Linked DNA regions of Homo sapiens: region 2 is linked to region 1. The links come from fine-mapping of genetic effects on gene expression. A gene starts in region 1. The other region holds a variant in brackets. All regions are shown on one strand. Distances are between the middles of the regions. Region 1 holds the start of MPZ (myelin protein zero). Region 2 has its middle 11 kb from the start of TRV-CAC1-1.

The links. PIP is the estimated chance that this variant, and not a neighbour inherited with it, causes the effect.
Region 2: its variant is fine-mapped to the expression of MPZ in whole blood (INTERVAL, PIP above 0.99).

Annotation. Positions count from the first base shown.
Region 1 is chr1:161,298,036-161,314,051 of GRCh38, reverse strand. It overlaps MPZ (myelin protein zero), which reads left to right and starts at 4,084. Exons shown (of 6, transcript NM_000530.8): 1 at 4,084-4,213; 2 at 6,628-6,794; 3 at 7,131-7,344; 4 at 7,588-7,723; 5 at 7,884-7,944; 6 at 8,075-9,317. The coding sequence starts at 4,147. The coding sequence ends at 8,176. RefSeq lists an enhancer at 1-95.
Region 2 is chr1:161,403,497-161,417,478 of GRCh38, reverse strand. It overlaps the pseudogene LOC148430 and the pseudogene COMMD6P1. Among named protein-coding and RNA genes, the nearest start is that of TRV-CAC1-1, 11 kb to the right of the region's middle. The variant G/TG (reference allele first, on the strand shown) is at 5,399.

The DNA.
Region 1 (16,016 bases):
TCTGTTGCGTTCCCCCTGCCTCCCAGGTCGGCCTAAAAACGTGGTGGTTGGCCGGTTGAGACCCCGAAGAGAAAAGATACTTTGGGTTCCCTCCCTTTCTAATACGAAGCTTTAACCAGACAGATACATAAATTGTGACCTAAGTTGGGGAGTGTGTAGAGGGGCCTCGAGAAGACCTTGCGGACCACCATTCCCGAAAACGAGGAGCCTCATCTAACCACCTCGATTAGACCCCACAATTCCTGGGTTTGAGCTGCCACATGGACCAGGCGCCCACTAGCCGAGGACAATGCTCCCTTGTTCGTTGTTTCAGCGCTATGTGGGTGACACCCACAGCTAGAAGAACCCGGAGTGAGGGGAAGAACACGCTTTGATTTATATATGTGTATATATATATATACAGTTTTAGGGAACCCAAGCACAGGAATCAACTGCCGAGCACTCAAGACTGAAGAAAGAAGAAGAGCAAATGATAAAGGAAGGGAACAGAGCACAAAAGTTCTTGACTCTTGTGGGGAGTAGGGTGGAGAGGAGTAAAAGGGACAGGCTAGAGCAACTCCTATTTCTACAAAAAAAATACTCAATTATATTAATATTCAGATCTTATGTATATTTAGCATCCCTGCACTTCAGGATTTAAATAGCACAAATTCACTTATTTCTGCATCAGATGAATAATACTACTTTGCATTTCTATAATGCTTGACAAAGCACATTCGTACACTTTAGGATTGAAAGAGGCTCTCTAATCCAATCTACTATCTATGCAGGGATCTCCTCTGCAACACCCATAACAGCTGATCTTCAAGACTCTACCCCCCCATATTCAATGATGGGTACCTCAAACAACAAGTTTTATTTAATGAACAACTTATTCGTTAGTTATTATATTTAAATACAGTTTTGTGCTATCGAAATTCCAGTCATTGACTTGGCTCTCTGGAGCTTCACGTTAACAAACCCAAGGAATGCCTTTTTCACTCAGATCTTTTTTGGTTTTTCTTTTTCTTTTTCTTTTTCTTTTATTTTGAGACGTAGTCTCACTCTGTCGCCCAGGTTGGAGTGCAGTGGCGCTATCTCAGCTCACTGCAGCCTCTGCCTCCCAGGTTCAAGCGATTCTCCTGCCTCAGCCTCCCCCCAAGTAGCTGGGATTACAGGCCTGCACCACCATGCCCGGCTAATTTTCTGTATTTTTAGTAGAGATGGAATTTCACCATGTTGGCTAGGCTGGTCTAGAACTCCTGACCTCAAGTGATCCACCGGCCTCGGCCTCCCAAAGTCCTGGGATTATAGGTGCGAGCTACCACTCCCAGCCCACTCAGCTCTTTAAATATTAATAATTTCATTTAGCATGTAGTTATGGACTTTTTGTCAGTCCGTGAAAAGTTCTGTAGGGGATTCAAAGATACAGATGTTTGTACTGTCCCCAAGAAGGTTATAGCCTTAGCAGGATCAATAAAGACATGCAACAAAGAAAGTAGCAACAACCCATTGAAGAGGGTGTTGATAAAAGGGGTGGTTAGATAAAGAGGAAATGATTGCTTACAGTTGGGAGGTGGAGTTAGGTGGAAATTTTGGAGGGGAGAGTTTTGGGGGTTTTTTTTTTTTTGTACTTTGAATTGCTGTTTTATAGAAATGTTGACTACAACATCCTGTAAACATTTGTCAATGATGATGGTTTTGCCTATGGACTTCATAAGCAATCCCATATTTAGAATTCCACAACCCAAATCTAATACTAATGACCATACCCACCAGGGCTGTGGTCTAATGAGATGCCAGGAAGGTACCAGGACACTGTCCTTCACCTGGGTGAGCCTGCAGTGGTCTCATAGCAGGAATAACAATGACCACCCCACTTACATTAACTTCTAGAGGTCAGGCACGGTGACTCACACCTGTAATCCCAGTACTTAGGGAAGCCAAGGCAGAAGGATCACTTGAGTATAGGAGTTCAAGATCAACCTGAGCAACACAGTGAGATCCTCATCTCTACAAAAAATTGAAAAATTAGCTGGGTATGGTGGTGGCTGCCTGTGGCTCAGCTAATCTGGAGGCTGAAGTGGGAGGATCGCTTGAGCCTGGGAGGTTGAGGCTGCAGTGAGCTATCATTGCACCACTGCACTACAGCCTGGGCCACAGAGCAAGACCTTATCTCTGAAAAAAAAAAAAAAAAAATTTTAAACTAGCCCAGCATGCTGGCATGCGCCTGTAGTTCCCAGCTACTTGGAAAGCTGAGGTAGGACAATTGCTTGAGCCTCAGAGGTCAAGGCTGCAGTGAGCCATGATCATGCCACTGCATTCCAGCCTGGGCAACAGAGCGAGACTGCCTCAACAAACAAAAAAACCTCAGCTCTGGTTATGTAGACATCCCCATGGCTAACTCCACCCCAACACCTTCAGGTTCTCATGATGTACCAAATTGAATTCACCTTCTTTCACCTGTCATTTAAGGCCTTTCACAAACTGGTTTCGACTTTCCTGTCCAGTCTCATTTCTGACTATGCCACTTCAAGTTTCCCCAAATCAAGTCAAAGTGGATGGCACAAGATCGGCCCTGAATATATCCAACACTTCAGAAACCTACATCTCATATACATACACACACACACACACACACACACACACACACACACACACACACACACACACATTCTGTCTCTCCGTCTCACCTCTTTGTCCTTGCTTTTGCTGTTCTATCTTCTGGTAACCCTCCCTATCTCCCTTTCCAAAATGACAGTCATCCTTCAAGGCTGATTCATATCTAACATTGCCTCCTAGACACAACTATTCTTCCCTCTGAACTATTTATTTGTTTGATTATTTATTTATTTATTTATTTTTGAGACAGAGTTTCATTCTGTAGCCCAGGGTGGAAAGCAGTGGCACAATCATAGCTCGCTGCAGCCTTGATTTCCCAGGTTCAAGCGATCTTCCTGCCTCAGCCTCCCAAGTAGCTGGGACTACAAGCATGTGATAACATGCCCAGCTGATTTTTTAAAAAATTTTGGTAGAGGCGAGGTCTTGCTATGTTGCCCAGACAGGTCTCAAACTCCTAAACTCAAGCAATCCTCCTGCATAAGCCTACCAAAGTGCTGAGATTACAGGTGTCAGCCACTATGCCTGGCATAAACTTCATTTATTAAAGTTTATTTTGTCTTTAATCTCTCATATAACTTAGTCTTCCTGATATTGCAGCTGTGTGTGCCCCTCTTTTGTACTCCCAGCATTTTGTTCATTACTAAAGGAAGTGTCATGGCTTATTATACTTGATTGTTGATGGGTTTGTCCTCTGATCTTCCCATCTCCACCTCCCCAAACCAAATTTTCAACTCCTTGCTGGAAGGACTTAATTTTTATTCCTCTCTCTATTACCTGCATTCTCATACTTTACATATTGCTGGCACTTAATACAATTTTGTAGCCTTGAAATAAATTGAAATGGACTTAAACAGCAGCATGAAGCACTGAAGGACTTCTTGACAAACGGAAAGGTCAGGGGCTTCTTGCCTGGAAATAGTCCAGTGGAGAAAAACTTCTGTCTGGGAAGAATCGCACAGGATGAAGGGAGGTGCGGGGAAAAAAACTCCCATAGGACTTGGTCATCTCAAGAAGTCTGTAATGCAGCCCACATTAGAGGAGATAACAGGGGATATCCTATTTTCAGAGTTCTCTGGGGGAAACCTCCCTCTAGTTCCTAGGGCTGTGAGGCAGCCTCTCTCAGGCAAGGAGGCTGAGGAGAAATCCCTTTTTATGGCCTTTAAATTGAGGTTCCATATCTATCCCTCAGAGAAGTGTGTCTGTGTCCCTGTTTTTGTCCCTCTCCCTCACCACCCCCCACAACATTCCAGCCTGGGGCAGGGGGAGGCCAGTGGACACAAAGCCCTCTGTGTATGGGGTGGTATGTGTCCCCCCACCCCTCCACCCAGACTATACAATGCCCCTTCTGCTCCCTGCACTCTGCCCCCCTCCCCACCACCTCTCAACTGCACATGCCAGGCTGCAATTGGTTACTGGCTGAGGACAGCCCCCTCATGCTGGGGCCCTAGGGGATTTTAAGCAGGTTCCAGGAACCCCCCGTTCAGTTCCTGGTCCCCCACTTTCTCAACCCCACAGATGCTCCGGGCCCCTGCCCCTGCCCCAGCTATGGCTCCTGGGGCTCCCTCATCCAGCCCCAGCCCTATCCTGGCTGTGCTGCTCTTCTCTTCTTTGGGTAAGTGGAGCCACTCTACTCTGGGAGTCTTGGGACTCAGGTGTCTCTCAGCAATCCCCACAGCCTTTGCTGCACTCCCCACTGCAACCAAAGAAAGAACAAGCAGGAGCAGGAAGGTGACATTATATTCAGAAAGAAAAAATATGCGGCTGGGCATGGTGGCTCATGCCTGTAATCCCAGCACTTTGGGAGGCCAAGGTGGGATAATTATTTGAGCCCCAGGAGTTGGAGACCAGCCTGGACAACATAACCAGACTCCATCTGTAAAATTCAAAAAAAAAAAAAATATATATATATATATATGAAAAGAAAAAAATATGCATTTAGAGGGAGGAAGTAGAGGTTTTATTTTAAAAGAAAGGGTAAAAGAGAGTGTAGCAAGCTTCCCTGAGTGGTGGCCATGGCTGGACCCAGGTTGGAAATAGTAGCATGCCCCCAGAGCCATGCTAACAGCCTGGTGGGAAGCAGTGTTAGATTACATAAAGAAATAGGCTCAAACACCTGGGTTTGGTTCCCACTCGTCCCCTAGCAGTGCAGGAGGTGCCTTAACCTTAGTTTCCCAGAAGGAAAAAGAGAGTGCGATCTAAGTAAGGAGCCCAGGTTTGTGGTCTCAGCTCCTCAGATTTTTTGTCTCTCTATGGCTCCTCACCTGTTGTGTGGGTGAATGGAGTGAGGTTCTATGAGATTCTGGGATCTTATCCCTCTAAAGCTGTCTTCCTTCATAAGCTGACCAGCCCTTTCCTTGCCCCCTGGCAGATGTTGGGTGAGTAAGAGGTCAAAGCAGGATTATTGGAATGGCCCCTTCCCTTCTCTGAACTGCCCTGAATCCTAGTGCAATGAGTGAGCCATAGGCAAGTGGGGGTGGTGGGGAGGACATCAAGGGAAAGGGGGCTGGCCAGAATGCCCAGGGTTCTCTGCTGTCAGCTGCTTGAGCCCTAGACTCTTCTGGGTTGTACTGGGCTATTTGGGGGTACCCTGAGAAAATGTTAAAGATAGAGAGTTGGAGAAGGGCATAGTGAGGGAAATAGGGGGAAGGAATCTTGATGTATAAGGAAGAGGGAGAGTTGTGTCTCAACACTTGTTCCACTCATAGAACCATTGAGCACAGCTGAGAAGGGCAATGGTTGATATTGTAACAGGAGGAATAGAAGTTAGAGCCAGTGAATTATCTCCCTTGTTAAACAAGGGGGATTCCCAAGAAGGTTCTAAGGTGGAAGTTCCAGAAGGTAAGTACATGGTATTGCATGCTGAGGTGAGAGATTCAGGACAGTTGGGGTGGGAGTAGGGGTGGCATGAGCCCCCCAGCGTTGGTCAGACAATGGAACTTTGTTTGGTTGCCACCTCCCCCTCCTGTAGAACAAAAAGGTCTACAGTTGCCCCTCCCTGGGGCCAGCCCACACACATAGTCTCTCTGGAATGACCTTCCTTGTGTGGGTAAGTCTTGGGGATGGCACTGGGCCACAGTGGCCAAGAGGAAGGTGAGGACAGTTGAACCATAGAGGGCTCACATGTAGGGTCATCTGAGCTGTAGGCTTGGGGTGTTGCTCTGCACCCAGCTGAGAGGGGTATGAGGCCCTTCCCTTCCTGACTCTCCAGTCAAGAGCAAGCTGTATGGCAACCAGGGATTCAGCAATGAGGACAGTTGTGCCAGGGAAGAAGACTTATATTTTCTAGTTATCTTCATTTTTTTCTGCAAGAAATCTGAGTTTGCTGTATTGTGAAATCCAATGCAGCTGTTAAAATAAGATTGATATCTATGAATCAACAGGGAAAGCTCCTCCAGATACGTAAGTTCTTAAGCAAAAAGACACTAGAATACAATGCAATATGTATGTGGAAAAAAAAACTCCACAAAACTATTTGTTGTAAGTATGTGTATATCTTGAGTTTATTGAGTTTATACTGAGTTTGATTCATATTAAATGGATAACTTGTTACATCTTGGAAGGGAATACAGGAAAGGAATTTGTTGGGCTAAGTGTCAAAGGAGACTTTTGTTTTATTTCTATTGCTTGAATAGTTTATAAGAAGAGTACAATATGTATTACCTGTATAATTTATAATAAATTTTAAAAATTTAGAACACTGCATCTAAAGGATAGCTTAAAAGTTAGATACTGACCCAAAGGAGAAGTGAGACTTAAAGACAGAACCCAATCTCTGGAAGTCCTCAAGAGAATTCTGTTACTGCTGATTTCATCTTCTCTACAGACATGCTAAAGAGCTTGACAGACACAGCATTTATGCTCATCTGTTCAGTTAGTCCCCAGAGACTTGGGGCTCAGAATTTGTTGTTTCTTTTCCAAATTGGCCTCTGACCTGTGACTCAGCACTTGATTTCCTACTGATCTCACTTCCTCTGTATCCCTTACTGGGCCCATAGGTGCATCTGATTCCCCACTTTGTGCTTGCAGTGCTGTCCCCGGCCCAGGCCATCGTGGTTTACACCGACAGGGAGGTCCATGGTGCTGTGGGCTCCCGGGTGACCCTGCACTGCTCCTTCTGGTCCAGTGAGTGGGTCTCAGATGACATCTCCTTCACCTGGCGCTACCAGCCCGAAGGGGGCAGAGATGCCATTTCGGTGAGTGCCTGGGGGAATCCTGGGGTTGGATAACAGAAAGTGCTTCAAAGAACAACAAAAAAGATAACTTGGGCTAAGGAGGGGGAAATCCTTTTTGAGCCATAACCCCAACTTTGGCAAGGTAAATGACAGTCTTTGTCACCCTGACTACATTGTCCTCCCTTCTCCAGCACTACCCTTTCCAGCCCAAGATCCCTTACCCTGAGGCTGGAGCGAAGCTTTTTTTTTTTTTTTTTTTTTTTTGCTTTTTTCTTTCTGTAACAAATTATGGAGCTAAGCTTTGACAGCTGTGTTCTCATTAGGGTCCTCTCACATGCTTCCCCTCATTCCTCATAGATCTTCCACTATGCCAAGGGACAACCCTACATTGACGAGGTGGGGACCTTCAAAGAGCGCATCCAGTGGGTAGGGGACCCTCGCTGGAAGGATGGCTCCATTGTCATACACAACCTAGACTACAGTGACAATGGCACGTTCACTTGTGACGTCAAAAACCCTCCAGACATAGTGGGCAAGACCTCTCAGGTCACGCTGTATGTCTTTGAAAAAGGTGTGAGAAGGGATGGGGACAAGGGTATGGGAAGCAGTTTGGGAGGGGATCAGGGAGGACTGATAGGTTGGGGGAAGAGGCAAAAAGCCCGGCCTAAGGACCTTTATTCAGGCTCTGGGAGCGTGGGCAGAAGGCAGTTTTAGCTGGGAGTCCTACATCCTCAATGCAGGGCATACACTCGGACTAGGAACCACAGATACAGGGCCCTGCTCATTCTCCCACTTCTTTTCCCACCCCTCCTAGTGCCAACTAGGTACGGGGTCGTTCTGGGAGCTGTGATCGGGGGTGTCCTCGGGGTGGTGCTGTTGCTGCTGCTGCTTTTCTACGTGGTTCGGTACTGCTGGCTACGCAGGCAGGCGGCCCTGCAGAGGAGGCTCAGGTAAGGGGCGGAGCCTAGCTCCCCTCCCCCTCTCCCCACTATCCCCCATCTGGGCGGAGACTACTCCAGTGGGTGGGAGGGCCAAGGGGAAGAGGAAGCTGTGTCCGCGGTGCAAGGGGTTCCGGCGAGGCCAAACGTACAGCAGTCTCTCTTCTTGCAGTGCTATGGAGAAGGGGAAATTGCACAAGCCAGGAAAGGACGCGTCGAAGCGCGGGCGGCAGGTTAGCGGGACTTGGGGCCTAGACAAGATGGGAAGGAGAACCCTGGGAGCCGCCGGGCAGCAGTGAGGGGTGGGATGGGAACAGTCAAGCCCCAGTCGCTCGGTGACTGATGTGTGCGCCCCTCCCCCAGACGCCAGTGCTGTATGCAATGCTGGACCACAGCAGAAGCACCAAAGCTGTCAGTGAGAAGAAGGCCAAGGGGCTGGGGGAGTCTCGCAAGGATAAGAAATAGCGGTTAGCGGGCCGGGCGGGGGATCGGGGGTTAGGGGTGGAGTCCGCCAAAGGCCCAAAGGTGATGGTCATCGAGATGGAGCTACGAAAGGATGAGCAGAGCCCGGAGCTCCGGCCTGCTGTCAAGTCCCCCAGCAGAACCAGCCTCAAAAACGCCCTCAAGAACATGATGGGCCTGAACTCGGACAAGTGATCGCCACCCCCCCACCCCAGGCCCTGCCAGAGCAGGGGGACCTAGGCTCCTCTTACCCCCGTCTAGGTGCTTTCCCTCTTTGCTCCCCCGCCCTGCCCTGCCCTCACCTCCCTTTGAGATGTAAGTTTCATTCCAGAATTCATTCCCCAGGCAATTGTATTCTCCCCCACCTTCACCCCTGGCTTTCTGGGAGCCCAGGAGCTAATCCTACCCCTCACCTGCCCCGGGGGCTGTGTGTTTGGTGCCTGTCCACCTGAGCACTGAGAAGAAAGGGACTTTGATACCCTCTGCCTCAAGTCCAGGCCACCTGGCATTCCCATCTCCTGCATCCCCCAGCCTGTCCCCCTGGCTGTTTCCTCTCCCGTCCCTCCCTCCCCTCTACCAGGTGGCCCAGCTCCATACTCTGTCCCCCCAGCTAATACCCAGAGCACCCAGATCAGACTCTCCTTCAGGGTTTATTTAGGTTATTATTTTTTATTTTTTAATCCATTCTTTGTTTGTTTACCTGTGCTCATCCTCTGCCCTTACACCCATGACTGAGGACCAATGACGTCATGTGGCTTTTGCAATTCACGCCCCCCTTAAGTCCTTAATGAAGAGCCAGCCCAAGTAGAGGGGCCCCTGATCCTCACACTTCAGTATAGCATTGGTTCCCCCTGACCACTTTGGAGCACTGTTCTGGGACTCCAGGTCTTGAGGAGAGAGACAGAGAGAGAGAATGGATCCTCATAGGTCAGGGAGTGGGGGAGGGGGCAAATGAGCCTTAAGAAATGGTTTTTAAACAACCAAACAAAAAGCAGGAAAAACAAATGGGAAATGGGGGGGCGGGGGGGAGGAAGAGGCTGCACTGCAGCCACAGGGGATTCTTAGGATTTTTCTACATTCTGTATATTTCTTCTCAAACCTCCAAATGTCCTTAAATGTTTAATAAACACTGACATTTCCAGAAGCTGCTGCCTTGTCTAGAATTTCCTAGTCCTCCTGGGAATAATTCCTGCCCCTTATCCCATCCCCAACCTTCCATACTTGGCTTCAGTTGTTTAGTTTGTTTTTTTGGGGTGGGCTTATATAGTATACTAGAAAGAACTCTGAAATAGCCTCACAAGACACATTCATACCTTCAGCAAATAATCAGTGAGATTATACTACGTTGTAAACTCTGCCAGTCTCTGCTTTTACATGAGTTAAAACGCAGAATCTGTCTTCACCAAGATCTGAATTTTAAAACATCCCAGCCACTCTCTAGCTGTGTGATCCCCAGGACAGTTACCTGACTTTGGTAAGCTTGTTTATGTACTTGTAAACAACTGAGATAATGATATCTGCCCTGCTTAATTCCTAGGGATTTTATAATAATCAAATGAGATCCTGTGTATGGAAAACTTTGTAAACTGTAAGTTGATATACAACTAAATATTAAGGTGTTCAATATTTGTTTCTAGTGCTTGCCTAAGGTAGTACACTTTACAAATTAGCACAAATCCCATTCACCTCTCTAAACAATCACTGCTTTGTTTTGTTGGTACATGATTTTACTTCTGTTTACCTATTAATAGGTATACTATTAATACCTCATTAGCTAGTTTGTTGGTATGTTGATTTAGGTATACCATTAATATCCTGGTATCCTGAACTGATTGTGGAAAAACATATACGTATCATTTTCCCCTGGGGATTACTGATGGCACAAAAAAACCCAAAGTGCCCACAAGTAATTTCTTCCCCTTGTTAAGAAGCTAAAGATATGATTAACACCAGCTTTACCAAAACCCAGAGTGCTTCCATTTGTTTGAGGGGTGTCTTCAATGTCTTTTAAAAAAAATCAATCTGCCTTCATTTAAATATAAAAGCTAATAGAGTATATATAGCCTTTTGTTGGGGGGAAGTGGGAGAGGAAACTTAGTCACAACCCAGTAATAAAGTTGGGAATATCTTAAGCCCAAGATTCCTTATTAGTTAAGATGCTAAACTGTCCATTATTCATTAGATAGTTGCAGCTGGGTTCCCTGCTTAAACTTCCCAGACTGTCAGGAGAGTCAAATGAGGTTGGATGTGGTGGCTCATGCCTGTAATGCCAGCACTTTGGGAGGCCGAGGTGGGCAGATCACTTCAGGCTAGGAGGTTGAGGCCAGCCTGACCAACATGGCTAAACACTGTCTCCACTAAAAATACAAAAATTAGCCGAGCATGGTGGTGAACGCCTTCTAACCCTGGCTACTTGGGCAGCTGGGGCACGAGAATTGCTTGAACCGCGGAGGCGGAGGTTGCAGTGAGCCGAGATCATGCCGCTGCACTCTAGCCTGGGCAACACAGCGAGACTATGTCTCATAAAAATAAAAAAGAAAGAGAGAGAGAGAGAGTCAAATGAAATATTATGCTACTTATGAGATAGAGTATAGCTCAAAGCTTCTCATTTAATTACACTTTTGTTCTAAAATTTATCAGCCACCTGCATTTTGCTAGCTCAGTTTATCCAATTATTTTAATATTTCTTATTCCATCAAGAATCCTGGTACCCTGGGACAACATTTTGCAATCTCTTGCATTAGGCATTTTCACAAGCATTGCACACTTAATGTGGGTTTTTCCAGGACTGTGCCCATTTTCCACAATCCCCAACAAAGTAAGCCACATCCCCCCTTTCTTTCCTCTGCAGTAAAGCATTAAATAAAGTCTAGAATAATGATTCAGATAAAGGGAAATGACATTGTTATATGGGAAACTTTGAATCCCATCTAATTATTACTTTGAAATAAATCGTTCACAATCCTCAGTGCGTTGTTAATAATAGCAATAATTTTGCCCAGGCATGTGAGCACTTTGAGAATAATTTAAAGCCTTTTTCAGTGTTAACCATAAAAAGAAAAAGATTATAACCCAATTTATGAATACGCAGACAAAGAGTCTAAATAAAATATTTGCAAAAGAGAATTCCACAATGAGTTAATAAAATAATAAATTATGACCATGAAGAATTTACTCTGGGAATGAAAGAATAGTTCAGTATCAGGAAATTTACTAACAGGATGTGTTATATCATCAGGGAAAAAACGTAATTCTATCAAGAGGAGATGTAAAAAAAAAAAAGCAATTGTTTTTTAGTAGCTATTCCTACAAAACATTCTAAGTAAAATAGTAATAGAAATAACCATAATGGACACTATTTTTCAAAAATCATTTAAAAAGCATATTAAATATGAAATATTGCAGCCATTGTCATTAAAACAAAAGACAGTACTTACATTATCGCTAAAAATATTCAGTATTATATTTGAAGAATTTAGCTAGTGTAATTAACCAAAAACAAGGAACAATCTGTATACATAGATGAGAAACTTATCTTTATTTGCAGATAATATGATTGTGTTTCTAGGAAATCCATAAGATGCAACTAGACATGTATTGAACTAAGAAGTCAATCTGGTAGTGTGATTATAAAATAAATTAATTTCAGTCTATAACTAGAAATCTAGCTAGAAATGAAAATAATAGGGAAGCCCACTGATGACAGTAAAAAGAACAGAAACAGAAATTAACAAGAAAGGTACATAACCTGTATGAAAAAAATTATAAGATTTATTAAGTAACAATATGTGAAAGTTGTCAGAATCAAGATGGAGACACTCGTGTTAAAAAAGAAAAACAGGGCCAAGCGCAGTGGCTCACGCCTGTAATCCCAGCACTTTGGGAGCTGAGGTGGGTGGATCACTTGAGGTCAGGAGTTCAAGACCAGCCTGGCCAACATGGTGAAACTCCATTCTACTAAAAATACAAAACATTAGCCAGACATAGTGGTGCTCACCTGTAATCCCAGCTACTCAGGGGGCTGAAGCAGGGGAATCGCTTGAACCTGGGAGGCGGAGGCTGCAGTAAGCTGAGGTCATGCCACTGCACTCTAGCCTGGGCAACAGAGCGAGACTCCGTCTCAAAAAAAAAAAAAAAACCCCAAAACAAACAAAAAGACAAAAACAAAACAAAAGAAAACCCTGACAAACAGAACCAGGGAGGGCTATGAAGAAACAGGTTCTCATGCATAAATACTTGATAACAAAAGCTATGACAAAAGAATGCAAAATGGGGACTTAGGGGAAAGGGTGGGTGGGGGTGGTGAGGGATAAAAAAAACTACAAATTAGGTTCAGTGTATACTGCTCAGGTGATGGGTGCACCAAAATCTCACAAATCACCACTAAAGAACTTACTCATGTAACCAAACACCACCTGTACCCCAAAAACCTATGGAAATAATTTTTTTTTTTTTGAGACTGAGTTTTGGTCTTATTGCCCAGGCTGAAGTGTGATGACGTGATCTCAGCTCACTGCAACCTCTGCCTCCCGGGTTCAGGCAATTCTCCTGCCTTAGCCCCCCGAGTATCTGGCATTACAGGCGCCCACTATGCCTAGCTAATTTTTGTATTTTTAGTAGAGACGGGGTTTCACTATGTTGGCCAGGCTAGTCTCGAACCCCTAGCCTCAGGTAATCCATCTGCCTTGGCCTCCCAAAGTGCTGGCATTACAGGCGTGAGCCACCGCGCCCGGCCATAAATAAATTTTTTTTTTAATTCTATGAGAAATAAACATTAAACGTTTTTGAAATATTCCCTTCCCCCTCGTTAAATTATTAAACTAAATGATAAATCTATTTGGATTAGGCTATAATCAAATGGCTTTCTGATCTCCTTGCAAATGAATTTTGCCTACTATATTGCAGCCAAATTTTTTCTTTATCTTTGCATGTTCTCACTTATAAGTGAGAGCTAAGCATCGGGTATATATGGACATGACAATAGGAACAATAGACACTGGGGCCTATTTGAGGGGAAAGAAAGAGGAGGGACGGGCTGAAAAAGTACTCATTGGGTGCTATGCTCACTACCTAGTGACGGCATAATTTGTACCCCAAACCTCAGCATCACACAGTATACCAATGTAACAAACCTGTTCATGTACCCCCTGAATCTAAAATAAACGTTGAAATTAAACAAACAAAAAAAATGCAAAAACTGCAACCTTGCACAAATGCTGTTCACGACCTTACACAAAAATTACATCTACAAGGACATCTGCCCAACAACTGTCTGTCAAACCTCCAACTGGCATTGTCTTTATTGATTATTGTAGCAAAGGATAATTATTAATATTTCAAAACAATTATGTGAGCCTCCTCATTTTGCCTTTAAAAACCTTTGTCAGCTGGGCACATTGGCTCTCGCCTGTAATCCCAGCACTTTGGGAGGCCAAGGCAGGCGGATTGCTTGAGTCCAGGAGTTCGAGACCAGCCTGGGCAACATGGTGAAACTGCCATCTCTACAAAAAATACAAAAATTAGCCAGTCGTGGCTGGGCGCGGTGGCTTACCCCTGTAATCCCAGCACTTTGGGAGGCCAAGGCGGGCGGATCACAAGGTCAGGAGATTGAGACCATCCTGGCTAACACGGTGAAACCCCTTCTCTACTAAAAAATACAAAAAGAAATAGCTGGGCGTGGTGGCGGGCGCCTGTAGTCCCAGCTACTTGGGAGGCTGAGGCAGGAGACTGGCGTGAACGCGGGAGGTGGAGCTTGCAGTGAGCCAAAATCTTACCACTGTACTCCAGCCTGGGTGACACAGTGAGAGTCCATCTCAAAAAAAAAAAAAAAAAATTAGCCAGTCATGATGGTGCGTGCCTGTAGTCCCAACTACTCCGGAAGCTGAGGCGGGAGGCTCGCTTGAGCCCAGGAGGTGGAGGTTGCAGCGAGCCAAAATCGCATCACTGTACTTCAGCCGGGGTGATAGAGCAAGATCCTGTCTCAAAAATTCATTTACCACTCAGTTCAGTGGTAAATGAATTGATTATTTAATAAAATATATTGGCATTGGCACAGTTGACTTATACGCCTGGAAGAAATCAAAGTAAAAAGTTTTTTCCCTCACATCCTATACAAAAATAAAATAAAAATTTTAAAAAGACAAATATTAGAAGGAAATAAAAATATTTGTTTAATCTCCAAATGGGGAAGGTCTTTAGGCAAGACAGGAAATCCGGAAATCATAAAAGAAAGTGATAAAAAGTTCAATCTCCCGGGGCTGTGGGCCCTGAAGATGTGGCGCTGTGTAGCAGCCGCCGCCTCGTAAGGCCTGGGCGCTGTGGCCTGGGCCCTGTGGCCTGGGCCCTGTGCCCTCCTAGAGGAGCAGGCAGGTCCCCCAGACTTGAGGTGGGGGCTCTGCCAGCTCCAGCACCACCCTTGCCCCGAGTCTTTTAACCTGAGTGTTAGCATTTTAAAGAGACCCTGCAGGAGTTCTGGCCTCTGACTAACTGCCCCACCCCAGCAGAGACCTGGTCGAGACTGTAACTAGTGATGTTTGTACAACCAAAGACTCTATTTTGTGGTTTAAGGAGAATAAAGTTGACTACATTAAAAAAAAAAAAAAGAAACTCAATCTCTCTCTTTTTTTTTTGAGATGGTGTCTCGCTGTGTCACCCAGGCTGGAGTGCAGTGGCACAATCTTGGCTCACTGCAACCTTCACCTCCTGGGTTCAAGTGATTCTCCTGCCTCAGCCTCCCATGTTGCTGGGATTATAGGTGTCCATCACCATGCCCGGCTAATTTTTGTATTTTTAGTACAGATGGGGTTTCGTCATGTTGGGCAGGCTGGTCTCAAACTCGTGACCTCAAGTGATCCTCCCACCTCGGCCTCCCAAAATGCTGGGATTACAGGCATGAGCCACCATGCCCAACCTAGTTCAACCTCTTTAATGGCAAAATACATTATAAACAAAGACAAAAGACAACTGGTGATGATGGATAAAACACAAGACATATGAAATGTCTTTCTACACATTTTTTTTTTGGGGGGGTGGGGCAGATGGAGTCTCACTCTGTCGCCAGGCTGGAGTGCCATGGTGAGATCTCGGCTCACTGCAACCTCCACCTCCCAGGTTCAAGCGATTCTCCTGCCTCAGCCTCCTGAGTAGCTGGGATTACAGGCGCGCGCCACCACGCCCAGCTAATTTTTTTGTATTTTTAGTAGAGACAGGGTTTAACCATGTTGGCCAGGATGGTCTCGATCTCTTGACCTCATGATCCACCAGCCTCGGCCTCCCAAAGTGCTGGGATTACAGGCGTAAGCCACTGCACCCGGCCTCTATACATTTCTTAATATCTCCGAAATTCCTACCTCCAGATACTGCCCCGTTTCTCCGCTTCCCTGTATAGCAAAACTCCTTGAACAAGTCTAGGATACTATATTTAATACCTCCCATTCTCTCTTCAACCCACTTCAATCATGTCTCTATCCTCATCACTCCACTAAAACTGCTTGTTTCAAAGGGCATTAATGATGCTTATTTTGCAGATTCAGTGGTCACTCTTGTCTTTCTCATCCTCTCAGAAGTATTCAACATTACTAGCCACTTCCTCTTTCTGTTAACACTTTCTCTCTCTTTTTTTTTTTGTTTTTTCTTGAGACAGAGTCTCGCCCTGTCACCCAGGCTGGAGTGCAGTGGCACGATCTTGGCTTACTGCAACCTCTGCCTCCTGGGTTCAAGCGACTCTCCTGCCTCAGCCTCCTTAGTAGCTGGGATTACAGGCGCCCACTACCACACTAGGCTGATTTTTGTATTTTTAGTAGAGACGGGGTTTCGCCATGTTGGCCAGGCTGGTCTCGAACTC
Region 2 (13,982 bases), 100 kb before region 1:
ACCATTGGTCACATTTTCCTTTCTCTTCACATGTCTCCTAATTTTTATTGTATGCTGAACATTATGTAAAAAATAACTAGAGGCCAGGCTGGTGGCTCACACCTGTAATCCCAGCACTTTGGGAGGCCGAGGTGGGCAGATCATTTAAGGTCAGAAGTTCAAGACCAGCCTGGCCAACATGGTGAAACATGGTGAAACTTCATCTCTACTAAAAGTACAAAAATTAGCTGGGCATGGTGTCTTGTGCCTGTAATCCCAGCTATTCAGGAGGCTGAAGCAGGAGAATCACTTGAACCTCAGAAGTGGAGGTTGCAGTGAGCCAATATCATGCCACTGCACTCCAGCCTGGGCGACAGAGTGAGACTGTCTAAAAAAAAAAAAAAAAAAAAAAAAAAAAAAAAAATATATATATATATATATATATATATATAGAGAGAGAGAGAGAGAGAGAGAGAGAGAGAGAGAGAGAATATACATATATATACACCCAGCCTGGGTGACAGAGTGAGACTCTGTCTCAAAAAAAAAAGCTTTATATATATATATATATATATATATATATATATATATATATATATATAAAGCTTTTTTATATATAAAAAATATATTTTTATATATAATATAAAATTATATATATAAAATATATTTATATACATAAAAGCTTTTTTATATATATATATAAAGCTTTTTTTTTTTTTTGAGACAGAGTCTCGCTCTGTCACCCAGGCTAGAGTGCAGTGGCGCCATCTTGGCTTACTGCAAGCTCCGCCTCCCGGGTTCACGCCATTCTCCTGCCTCAGCCTCCAGAGTAGCTGGGACTACAGGTGCCCACCACCACACCCGGCTAATTTTTTGTATTTTTAGTAGAGACGGGGTTTCACCATGTTAGCCAGGATGGTCTCGATCTCCTGACCTCATGATCCGCCCGCCTCTGCCTTCCAAAGTGCTGGGATTACAGGCGTGAGCCACCACGCCCAGCCAAAAAAGCATATTTTTCTCTTTTTCTTTTCTTTTTTTTTTTTGAGAAGGATTCTCACTCTGTCGCCCAGGCTGGAGTGCAGGGGCACAATCTCGGCTCACTGCAACCTTCGCCTCCCGGGTTCAAATGATTCTCCTGCCTCAAACTCCTGAGTAGCTGGGACTACAAGCATGAGCCACCACGCCCAGCTAACTTTTGTATTTTTTAGTAGAGATGGGGTTTCACCGCGTTGGCCAGCCTGGTCTCGAACTCCTGACCTCAAGTGATCCACTCGCCTTGGCCTCCCAAAGTGCTGGGATTACAAGGGTGAGCCACCATGCCCGGCCAAAATACATGTTTTTCTTGAGTTGTCTTTGTCTCATGGATTTGTAGGAGTAGTTTTGATATTATGTTGTGAATATCTTCACCCCAGTCAGTCCTCTTCTATTTCTCCCAAAAGGTATTGTATACTTTCACTTTTTTTCCCTCTTATCACTCACGGGCACACAAAATTGATTCAATCATCTCCCTCAGTTTATTGCACTTTATTTATTTATGTATTATTTATTTATTTTGAGATGGAGTCTCACTCTGTCACTCAAGCTGGAGTGCAAGGGCATGATCTTGGTTCACTGCAACCTCTGCTTCCCAGGTTCAAGCGATTCTCCTGCCTCGGCCTCCTGAGTAGTGGGGACTACAGGCATGCGCCGTCATGCCTGGCTAATTTTTGTATTTTTAGTAGAGACAGGATTTTTCCACGTTGGCCAGGCTGGTCTCAAACTCCTGACCTCAAGAGATCCACCCTTCTCAGCCTCCCAAAGTGCTGGGATTACAGGCATGAGCCACCCCGCCCAGCCCTATTGCTCATTATAATCATTGATTGGGTAAGATCCCTGTTCTGTTATATTGTCTCATTATTTTCTCCTCATCTCCCATTCTTACACCAATTCCTCTCCCCTACAATGCACCCAGTTTTGTATATTTAGTCTGTTTTTTAAATATACATATTATTTCTAAAAATATTAGGCCAGGCACGGTGGCTCATGCCTGTAATCCCAGCACTTTGGGAGGCCCAGGCAGGTGGATCACCTGAGGTCAGGAGTTCAAGACCAGCTTGGCCAACATCGTGAAACCCCGTCTCTACAAAAATACAAAAAAATTAGCCAGGCATGAAGGCAAGTGCCTGTAATCCCAACTACTCAGGAGGCTGAGGTGGGAGTATCGCTTGAACTCAGGAGGGGGAGGTTGCAGTGAGCCAAGATTGTGCCACTGTACTCCAGCCTGGGTGACAGAGACTCCACCTCAAAAAAAAAAAAAAAAATGAATCTGGAGATATAAAAGGTATCAGTGTTTGTGTATGTGAGAGTGTGTTTATTTAACAAAATGCAATATTGTATATTTGCAAAAATGGGTTTCTGCTATGAATTTTATGCTATTTCCTACTCCCTTTTCACTGTTTTTGTGAAAACAGTGTATTTTTATTCTCTCTCTTTTGCATCAGTAAACCAAGCCTAAGTAAATCTATGCATTAGTGATGGACATCTGGACTGCCTCCAATTCTCACCATCACACACAGTCCTGTCATGAATATTCTGATACATGTCTCCTTATAGACCTAGGTGCTAGTTTCTCTTAGATATAGAGTTAGAAGGATTGCTGAGTCTTAAAGCATACAGTTACTTAAATACTTCCAGGTTGCTTCCCAACGTGCTATACCTGTTTAATTCCCATCAGCAGGACATGAGACTTCCCATTTGCCTATGTTTTATTTTATTTTATTCTATTCTATTTTTTTTTTTTTTTTTAGACAGAGTCTCACTCTGTCACCTAGGCTGGAATGCAATGGCATGATCTCAGCTCACTGCAGCCTCTGCCTCCCAGGTTCAAGCGACTCTCCTGCCTCAGCCTCCCGAGTATGTGGGATTACAGGCATGGACCACCATGCCCAGCTAATTGTTGTATTTCTAGTAGAGATGGGATTTCACCATATTCATCAAGCGGGTCTCAAACTCCTGACCTCAGGCGATCCACCCGCCTCAGACTCCCAAAGTGCTTGGATTACATGCACGAGTCACTGTGCCCGGCCTCTCATTTGCCTATATGTTACCCAAGACATGACTTTCTAATGTTTACCAAAGATATAAATTGGTATCTCGCCATTTTAATTTATTTCCATTTCTCTGATTACTAGTGAGGTTCATCATTCTTCATATTTTTAGCTACTTAGCTTTCCCCTTCTTAAGTTGGACTATTCACATTCTTTACCCATTTTTTTATGTTAGGTTTCCTGTTGGGTATTTTCTTTTCTTTCTAATTTCAGAAGTTCCTTGTATCTTCTAGAATCTAATTATAAATCCCTTGTTTTAGATATCATATCTTCTCCTTGTTATTATCTCTTCGTCCATGATGTGCCTCATTGAAGTCTTTCATATCGAGTTGCTCAGATTCATCCATTTATTTTCCCTCTATGCTGTATGGTTTTACGATCTTCTATTTTAAAAATTCTTTCCCACCCCAAGGTAACAAAAACGTTATTCTGAATTTTTGTCTATTAGCTTCATGGTTTCATCTTTGACTTTTTGATATCTAATCTATTGGAAAGTGGTAACTGTGTGAGTTATAATCCAATTTTATTTTCCCAACATACTGTAAGTCAGTTTTCTCAAGATTATCCGCTAAACAACTCATTAATTCAAATATTATATCATATATGAAATTTCTGTTCACACTCAGGTCTGTTTCTGGATTCTGTATTCTGTTCCATTGGGTACTTATTTATTCTTGTGTCAGTGCTACACAGTTTTTAAAATTTACTATGGCTATTGTCTTTTTTTTTTTTTTAATAGAGATGAGGGTATCGCCATGTTTGTTGCCCAGGCTGGTTTCAAACACCTGAGTTCTGAAGGGGGCTAGCCCCTCCACACCTGTGGGTATTTCTCCTCAGGTGGGACAAGAGACTGAGAAAAGAAATAAGACACAGAGACAAAGTATAGAGAAAGAACAGTGGGCCCAGGGGACTGGCGCTCAGCATACAGAGGACCCGCACTGGCACTGGTCTCTGAGTTCCCTCAGTATTTATTGATCACTATCTCTACCATCTCGGAGAGGGGGATGTGGCAGGACAATACGGTAATAGTGGGGAGAGGGTCAGCAGGAAAACATATGAGCAAAGGTCTCTGTGTCATAAATAAGTTTGAGGAAAGGTGCTGTGCCTTGATGTGCATGTACACAAACATCTCGGTGCATTAAAGAGCAGTATTGCCACCAGCATGTCTCACCTCCAGCCCCAAGGCGGTTTTCTCCTATCTCAGTAAATAGAACGTACAGTCGGGTCTTACACCGAGACATTCCATTCCCAAGGATGAGCAGGAGACAGATGCCTTCCTCTTATCTCAACTGCAAAGAGGCCTTCCTCTTTCAGTAATCCTCCTCATCACAGACCCTTTAAGGGTGTGGGGCTGGGGGACAGTCAGGTCTTTCCCTTCCCATGAGGCCATATCTCAGGCTATCAGATGGGGAGAAACCTTGGACAATATCTGGCTTTCCTGGGCAGAGGTCCCTGCAGCCTTCCGCAGTATATGTGTCCCTGGGTACTCGCGAGTAGAGAATGGCAATGACTTTTACCAAGCATACTGCGTTCAAACACTTTTTTTAACAAAGCACATCCTGCACAGCCCTAAATCCATTAAACCTTGAGTCAATGGCCAGGCGCTGTGGCTCACGCCTGTAATCCCAGCACTTTGGGAGGCCAAGGTGGGCGGATCACGAGGTCAGGAGATGGAGACCATCCTGGCTAACACGGTGAAACCCTGTCTCTACTAAAAATACAAAAAATTAGCCGGGTGTTGTGGCGGGTGCCTGTAGTCCCAGCTACTCGGGAGGCTGAGGCAGGAGAATGTGGTGAACCCCAGAGGCGGAGCTTGCAGTGAGCGGAGATGGCGCCACTGCACTCCAGCCTGGGAGACAGAGTGAGACTCTGTCTCAAAAAAAAAAAAAACCTGGAGTCAACACAGCACATGTCTCTGGGGCACAGGGTTGGGGCTAGGGTTACAGATTAACAGCATCTCAAGGCAGGCAGAAGAGTTTTTCTTAGTACAGAACAAAATGCAGTTTTTTTGGTTTTTTTTGAGACGGAGTCTCACTCTGTCGCCCAGACTGGAGTGCAGCGGCGCAATCTCGGCTCACTGCAACCTCTGCCTCCTGGGTTCAAGCGATTCTCCTGCCTCAGCTTCCCGAGTAGCTGGGACTACACATATGCGCCACCATGCCTGGCTAATTTTGTATTTTTAGTAGAGACGGGGTTTCACCATGTTGGTCAGGTTGGTGTAAACTCCTGATCTCAGGTGATCCACCCACCTCAGCCTCCCAAAGTGCTGTGATTACAGGCGTGAGCCACCGCGCCTGGTCAGAGCTTGTAGATTTTTTTCTTTTTTTTTTTTT[G/TG]ACAGTCTCGCTCTATCGCCCAGGTTGGAGTGCAGTGGCGTGATCTTGGCTCACTGCAAGCTCTGCCTCCCAGGTTCATGCCATTCTCCTGCTTCAGCCTCCTGAGTAGCTGGGACTACAGGCACCCGCCACCATACCTGGCTAATTTTTTTGTGTTTTTAGTAGAGAGGGGGTTTCGCCGTGTTAGCCAGGATGGTCTCCATCTCCTGACCTTGTGATCCACTCGCCTCGGCCTCCAAAAATGCTGGGATTACAGACATGAGCCACCACGCCTGGCTGAGCTTGTAGATTTTCAATGGAAACTGGGTTTGGCTGTGAGATGTGACAGTTGCAGATCTCTTAAGTATCCTTATGTTGCAGTGATGCTAAAAGTGCCACTCATTCAGTCCAAGTAAAGAACAAGTCCTTTGAAATGACAATTCCACAGTTTCAGAATTTATGCAGACAATTCAAGGAGATTGCTGCAGTTATTGAAACTATGTGAAATGGATTATTTGGTTGATAAATTACTATCATTCTAAAGTCATGGACTTCACTTTCTGCAACAAAACCGCATAAGAATGAAGTATTTATTGAATGAAAAATTGCACTTTTGTTTTTTTTCTTTTTTTTGAGATGGAGTTTCACTCTTTGTTGCCCAGGCTGGAGTGCAGTGGCATGATCTCGGCTCACTGCAACCTCTGCCTCCCAGGTTCAAGGGACTCTCCTGCTTCAGCCTCCTGAGTAGCTGAGATTACAGGTGCCCACCACCACACCCCGCTAATTTTTGTATTTTTAGTAGAGATGGGGTTTCACCATGTTGGCCAGGCTGGTCTCGAACTCCTGACCTCAGGTGATCCGCCCAGCTCGGCCTCCCAAAGTGCTGGATTACAGATGTGCGCCACCACATCCAGCTGTTTTTCCATTTTTAAAAATAATTTTAAAAATTCAGACAAAAAAAAGATAATAGCGGCCAGGCTCATTAGCTCACAGCTGCAATCCCAGCACTTTGAGAGGGTGGGTGGATCACTTGAGCTTGTGGGGGAAAGAAAGAGAGATCAGACTGTTACTGTGTCTATGTAGAAAGAAGTAGACATAAGAAACTGCATTTTGTGCCAGGTGCCTTGAACCCAGGAGCTGAGAACGTGCTAAGGAAGGAGACCACTACTACTCCTGCTGCCCTCCTCCCCCCACCTTGCCTAGTTCACAAGACAGGAGGAAAGAGAGAAAGCCAAAAGTTGGAAAAAAAACAAAAGTGAGATAAATAGCCAGACAATCTTGACACCACCACCTGGCCCTAGGAGTTAAAAAAAGTTATAATAATAACATCAACCCCTGACCTAAACTACTTGTGTTATCTATAAATTCCAGACACTGTATGAAAAAAGCACTGTAAAACTTTTTGTTCTGTTAGCTGATGCATGTAGCCCCCAGTCACGTTTCCCACGCTTGCTCAATTTATCACGACCCTTTCATGTGGACCCCTTAAAGTTGTAAGCCTTTAAAAAGGCCAATAATTTCTTTTTCGGGGAGCTCAGCTCTTAAGGCGCAAGTCGGCTGATGCTCCCGGCAGAATAAACCACTTCCTTCTTTAATCCGGTGTCTGAGGAGTTTTGTCTGTGGCTCGTCCTGCTGCATTTCTTGGTTCCCTGACCAGGAAGTGAGGGGATTAATGGAAGGCCAAGGCAGCCCCTTAGGCAGCTTAGGTCTGCCCTGTAGAGCATCCCTGCGGGGGACTCTGGCCAGCTTGAGCCATGCAGATCCTGAGAGCGCTCCCAGGTAGGCATTTGTCCTGGTGGAATGCCTTGTCAGAGCAGTGCACAGCAGGCCCCCGCAGAGGATCAATGCAGTAGCTGAACACCGGGAAGGAACTGGCACTTTAAGTCCAGACATCTAAAACTTGGTAAGACTGGTCTTTGGATCTTGCCCACTCCATTTGAGTGGAAGCATGGCCTGATCACCCATGGCGTGCCTGTACCAGCACTTTGGTTTTTGTTTTTGACTTGACTTGAATTGCTTGACTCTTTGGTTTTAGTTTTGATTTTGATTTGACTTGAATTGCTTGATAAACAGGCATGCCTTTATTGGCACTTTGGTTTTGGTTCTGATTTTGACTTGGCTTAAATTGCTTGATGAACAGGTGTGCCTTTAACAACACTTTGGTTTTCGTTTCGATTTTGATTTAGTGTGAATTAGACAAGTGAGTGACCTTTTACCCTTTCCTTCTTGTAGTGTGAATGTTGTTTTGTCTCAAGAGAAAAATAGGTCAGACACAAAGTAAGCCCACTCCGCTAGGAACTGTGTAAAAAATTTTCAAAAAGAAAAATAAAAGGATAGTCATCAAATCATCAAAACTTACTCTATTAAAATGTATGTTACAGAACCTTAAGAAAGGTTTCACAGGAGATTACAGAGTTAAGTTAACCCCCTAGAGGTTAGGAACTCTGTGTGAATTAGAATTGCCCTCTTTTGGTGTTGGATGGCCCACCGAAGGAACTATAGACAGGGAACAATTGGCCATGTATTTAAGGTGGTGACAGGGGTCAGAGGACAGCCAGTGTACCTAGATTAAATTCCTTTATATTGACTCATGGTTAAATATAATATAGACAAAACCAGCATAAATTTAGCCCTGTTTAACAGCTTATTGCAAAAAAGCCAAAAGTAAAAGTAAGAGCAGCTTCGCCAGCAGTCAGAGTTAAAAAGGGAGTCCCAGAAACAGCAAAAGAAGCCAGTTTTGCAGGAGCCACCAAAGATAATAGAAATTATTTCTCCACATATCCCAGCCTACCCACCTTTACTGAAGCCAACAGCCCCCTCAGAAATGAGATTCAGGAGCTAACAGGCCCCAGGTCTCACCTCGAAGGGGAGGATTGGAGCCTCGAGAGGCCAAGGAAGAAGGTCAAGATAGTCAAGTGGGCCGTCTCAGATCTGGTCTTGCTGGAGCTATGCAAATGCCTCTCAGGAAGACACCAGGACCTGTCTATTATAATGACCAGGCCCACATCTTGGGGGGCAACAGACTTTCATCTATCAGCCCTTTTCAACCATTGATCTACTAAACTGGAAACACCCTGAACCTGCCACCTTGCTCCCAGCAGCTAGAGCCCTGTCGAGCATAACAGTGCAGAGGTGTTGGACTCAAGTTTACTCTAGCAGACCTGACCTCCGGGACCAGCCTTGGGCATCAGTAGACTGGGAGCTATACAGCTTCATCAACCCACAAGGAGAGAGATATGCAGAATATGCAGTGGTAACCCTGGACACTGTTGTTAAGCTGAGCTCATTGCTTTAATTCGGGTCTTAGAACTCAGTGAAGGTAAGACTGTAAACATTTACACTGACTCTCAGTATGCCTGTTTAACCCTCCAAGTGCATGAAAAATTATATAAAGAAAAGGGCCTGTTAAACTCCAGGAAAAAGGGGAAAAAAGGCCCAGAGAATGCAACTCAGCTTCAGTGTTTGCAGAGGTACTGAGAAGCACTTCTGCAGAGGTTAAGAGTTGGTAGAAAAAAGCAAGTAATATAAAAAAGATTTCAGGAATGCTTTAAGGAGCTGGCAAGAGCCTAAGTCAGTTTTATAAGAGACTCTATACAGCATTCTGGCTTTACACCCCATTTAACCCTGAGGCTGCTGAAAATCAGTATATAGTGAATACTTCATTTGTAAAGCAAGCCTACGGTAACAGCAAGCAGAAGCTGCAGGCATGAATACCACCTAGTCTATAAAAGTGGCCACCAAGGTGTACGTTAACTGTGACCAAGGAACAAAACTGGGAAAGAGCAAAAGAAAAAGAAAGACTAAGTGTGAAAAAGAGAATCAGAAGGAAACAGGAGAGACAGACAGCAGTGCGTGGGGGCAGGGCCCGTGCCATTGCCCGGCCCCACCAGCTGGCTGTAGGAGCAGGAGAACTCAGAAAAAAAAAAAAAAAAAAAGTAAATTAAAGACTTAAGAAGAAAAAGCCAATATGTTAGCAACAGCTCTTATAAAAAAAATTAGCAATGTGAGAGGACATGGACGTGGATGTAGACAAGAAAGAAGTCAAGTTAGGCAAGTATTCAAGAGCCAGACAAGGCTAGAGAGAGAATAATGTATGAGATGCAAAAAGAAAGGACACTAGAAGGGTAAATGTTCAGAAGGCAATAAAGGAAATGGCCAAGGCCGCAAGACAAAGAGGCCATCGGCCAAGGGCAGCTGCACCTTGGAGGAACCAAATACTGATCTGATCAGGCTGACAGGAGCTGAAGAATGTAAAGACTAGGGCAGACTAGGCACCTTCTCATTAGGCTCCCAGGAGCCCATGGTCACATTAGAAGTTAAAAGCAGCAAGATTCTGCCGTATCTGTATTCCAGCTTCTCACTGAAGGCTAAGCCACTAGATAAAGTTACAAAGGCCGGGTGGGGGGAAGAAACCCTCCTCTAAGAAACTTAAACAGGACAAAGAGCCATACCTTGTGAAAACTTGCTCATGGACTTTACAGAACTGCCCCGTGCTGGAGGCTATCGGTACATGCTAGTGCTTCTTTGCACCTTTTCAGGGTAAGTTAAAGTTTTCCCCACCAGGACAGAAAAAGTACAAGAAGTGACTAGAGTACTGTTAAAAGACATTATCCCCAGGTTTAGACTACCTCTAACTTTAAAGTTAGACAATAGGCCAGCATTTGTAGCTGAAATAGTGCAAGATTTAACAAGACTGTTAAAAATAAAATGGAAGTTACACACAGCCTATCGGCCACAAACTTCAAGAAAAGGTGGAACACATGAACTGGACACTCGAGCAGCTACTGAAAAAAATATTGCCAGGAAATTCATTTAAGATAAAATCAGGTTTTTGCCTACGGTCCTCCTCCGAGTCAGGTGCACCCCCAACAAACAAACTAGGTATTTGCCGTATAAGATTTTGTTCGGTCGGCCACCCCTAAATCATAGGTCAAATTAAAGGTGACCTCCAGAAACTAAAGGAATTAACCTTTTTTTAATGCTTAATTCACTTTATTTTTCTTGTATAAAAACTCTATGTTGTAGCCACAGCTGGAGCCTGGGTCCGCTGCACGGAGACTCTGGTGTGGGTCTTGATGAGGTGGTCAGTGAATTCCTGATAGGGAGACTTGGTAAATACAGTCTCCTTCCAGAGGTCAGGGGTCAGGTAGCTGTAGGTCTTAGAAATGGCATCAAAGGTGGCCTTGGAGAAGTTGCCCAGGGTGGCAGTGCAGCCCTGGGCTGAGGTGTAGCAGTCATCGATACCAGCCATCATGAGCAGCTTCTTGGGCACAGGTGCGGAGACGATGCCAGTGCCCCTGGGTGCAGGCATAAGGTGCACCAGCACGGAGCCGCTGCGGCCTGTCACCTTGCAAGGGACGGTGTGGGGCTTGCTGATCTTGTTACCCCAGTAGCCTCTGCGCACGGGGACAATGGAGAGCTTGGCCAGGATGATGGCCCCACGGGTGGCGGTGGCCACCTCCTTGGAGCACTTAACACCCAGACCAACGTGGCCATTGTAGTCCCCGATAGCAACAAACGCCTTGAACCTGGTGCGCTGGCCGACACGGGTCTGCTTCTGCACTGGCATAATCTTCAAAACCTCATCCTTGAGAGAGGCCCCCAGGAAAGAGTCAATGATCTCTGATTCCATATTTCTGCATCTCAATCGTTTCTTCATATTTGCCTTTTTCCTCTTGTTTGGTGAGATGTGGCTTTCCACTCAGGTTTCCTTTTGCTTTGTCCAGCTTTGGCCTAGCCATGACCACCACACCTTGCTTAATGGGCAGGGAGAAGACATAGATCTCCTCCAGGGACTTGATCTTCATGTCCTTGACAAAGCGGCCCAGCTTTGTGACAGGCATCCACTCCTTATCCTTGGCCTTGCCTCCGCGATCTCCAGGGCCTTGGCCCCAGCCCCGTCCATGGCCGCGACCCCGGTTCTGGATGCCACTGCCAAAACCTCCGTGGAAGCCACCACGGTTCCCTATCCCAGGGCCACCAGGGCCTCCGGGCCCCCCCCCCCCCCACCCGCTGCACCGGTGTCATCCGCCATTTGTTGTTTTCTCGCAGAAGAAGAGGAATTAACCTTAAGAAAGCAAATGCAGGCTTTAAAAATAGCCATACAAAGTGTTCATAATTAAATAAATGAAAATGCCTATAAGCCAGACACCCCTTTAAATCTAGTGACTCTGTTTAAAGCAAAATCTAATTTTTCTAGGATCCATATAGCATGGGCCCTATACTGTAACCTTGTCCACTCCCACTGCTGTTAAAGTTGCAGGTGTGGTGTCTTGGATCCACCACAGTTGGCTAACACCAGCAGCTCAAGACAAGTAGCAGCCAGCAGGATGCAGATTATCCAACCCTGATGATCCTGAGATGAGACCAAACTGCTGCTGAGGATGACAGCCGTGCTCTGGTCACTCCAGAGGCTGACCAGTCTGCGCATGGCTGAACCTTGAGGAGACAACAAGCCCTGCTCTAGTCACACACCGGCAGCTGACTAGTCTATGCACAGCCGAAGCTTGAGGACTCATCAAGCAAGTAAATGTAGTTAAAAATCTTAAGACTAATAGTTTTCCTGTAATATTGTTTTCCTATTGTTCTGTCACTGTATTCAACCTTTTTCCCAGTAAGGACCTCTTTTGTCCTTGCTGGATATGAATATGCTGTACATTGTTTTGTTGTTGCTACCCCCCCCATAACCATGCTAGAAGAAACATCTATATAAGGTGTCCCCACTGTACACATACTACTTAGGAAACCCAGACCCATCCAGCCCAGCAACAATTCCAAGTCTTTCAGTCATTCTTTAAACATATAAACCAGAAGTTACCAGAACCTCCTCCTTTAGCAAAAAAGGAAAAAACCTATTTGCTCAGCTGGCTGAAAACATTGCTGGCAGCCTAGATGTTTCTTCATGTTATGTTTAAAAAAAGGCTAACATAAGAGACCAATGGCCTTGAGAAGCAAAAGAGTTAATGCCTCGAAGATAACTTCAACTAGCTCTTTCCCCAAAGAGACGCCACAAGTTCAAGTGTCTGGCTCTTAAAATCTTCTATTATTAAAAAATACTGTGTTATTCTCTAGGAAAAAGCTTTTAAGACCCAGTTAATAAACTAACCTGCTTAGGACATGACAAAGTTGATACATGTGCATATACAGGTTTAACACAGGTTTGATCCTAGGTCTTTATTTAGAAAATAGTTTCCAGCTACAAAAAATTTAAAACCCTCACTGTAAGTGCATTACTAGTAATAGCAACTTGCTTGCTGCTCCCCTGTGTATTACGCTTGCTCTTTCAAACGATAAAAGGTTTTGTAACTACCATGGTTTGTCAGAAAACTTCAACACGAGTGTATTACATAAAACATTATCACTCTGTCTTGCAAAAAGACTCAAAAGGTAAAAATAAAAGTGAGAACTCCCACTAATTAGTGAAAATTCTCAAAGTGGGGGATAAGGAAGGAGACCACTACTACTCCTGCTGCCTCCCCCCCATCTTGCCTAGTTCACAAGACAGGAGAAAAGAGAGAAAGCAAAAAGTTGGAAAAAAAAAAAAAAAGATAAATAGCCAGACAACCTTGACACCACCACCCAGCCCTAGGAGTTAAAAAAAGTAATAATAATAACATCAACCTCTGACCTAAACTACTTGTGTTATCTGTAAATTCCAGACACTGTATGAAAAAAGCACTGTAAAACTTTCTGTTCTGTTAGCTGATGCATGTAGCCCCCAGTCACGTTTCCCACATTTGCTCGATTTATCACGACCCTTTCATGTGGACCCCTTAAAGTTTTAAGCCTTTAAAAAGGCCAAGAATTTCTTTTCCGGGGAGTTCGTCTCTTAAGACGCAAGTCGGCCGACGCTCCCGGCCAAATAAACCACTTCCTTCTTTAATCCGGTGTCTGAGGAGTTTTGTCTGCAGCTGGTCCTGCTACAGTGCCACTGCACTCCAGCCCAGGCAACAAAGAGCAAAACTCCATCTCAAAAAAAAGAAAAGAAAAGAAAATCTACAAGCTAGTTGGTGACCTTGGACTTGGCATCCAGTGGCAGCTCACTGGACTCCTCCATGGGAGGTGTCTGGAGCTGGCATCGTGGACTCGAGCAAACACTTCCCCCCTCCCCCAGTTATCAGTTACAATGAGTCTCCTTATTTTCTTTTGTCAAAATTCCGTTGATTATCCATGGACTTATGCATTCATATAAATTTTACAATCAGTTGTCAAGTTATATAAGCCATTCTGTTGATATATTGATATCGCATGGGTCTTGCAGGAGAACATGGAGGAAATTCACATCTTTATAATACTAAATCACCTCATTTATAAATAAGGTAAATCTCTTCACTTAATTAGTTCTCAACTTGCCCTTGAATAATTTTAAGTGTTTCTCAATACAAAGGTTATGTGCATTTATTCTGTGTCTTGTTCTTAGACATGTTATGATTTTGTTCTATCATGAATGATATGTTATTTTCTCATATTTTCTAGGTGACTACTGCTGATGTGGTGGAAATTTCTGATTTTTTAATGTTGACTTTGTAGCCAGCAATCTTATTGAACTATTTTATTCATTCTAATAGTTTACTAATAATTCTGCTTCATTTTCTATGTAGCTAAT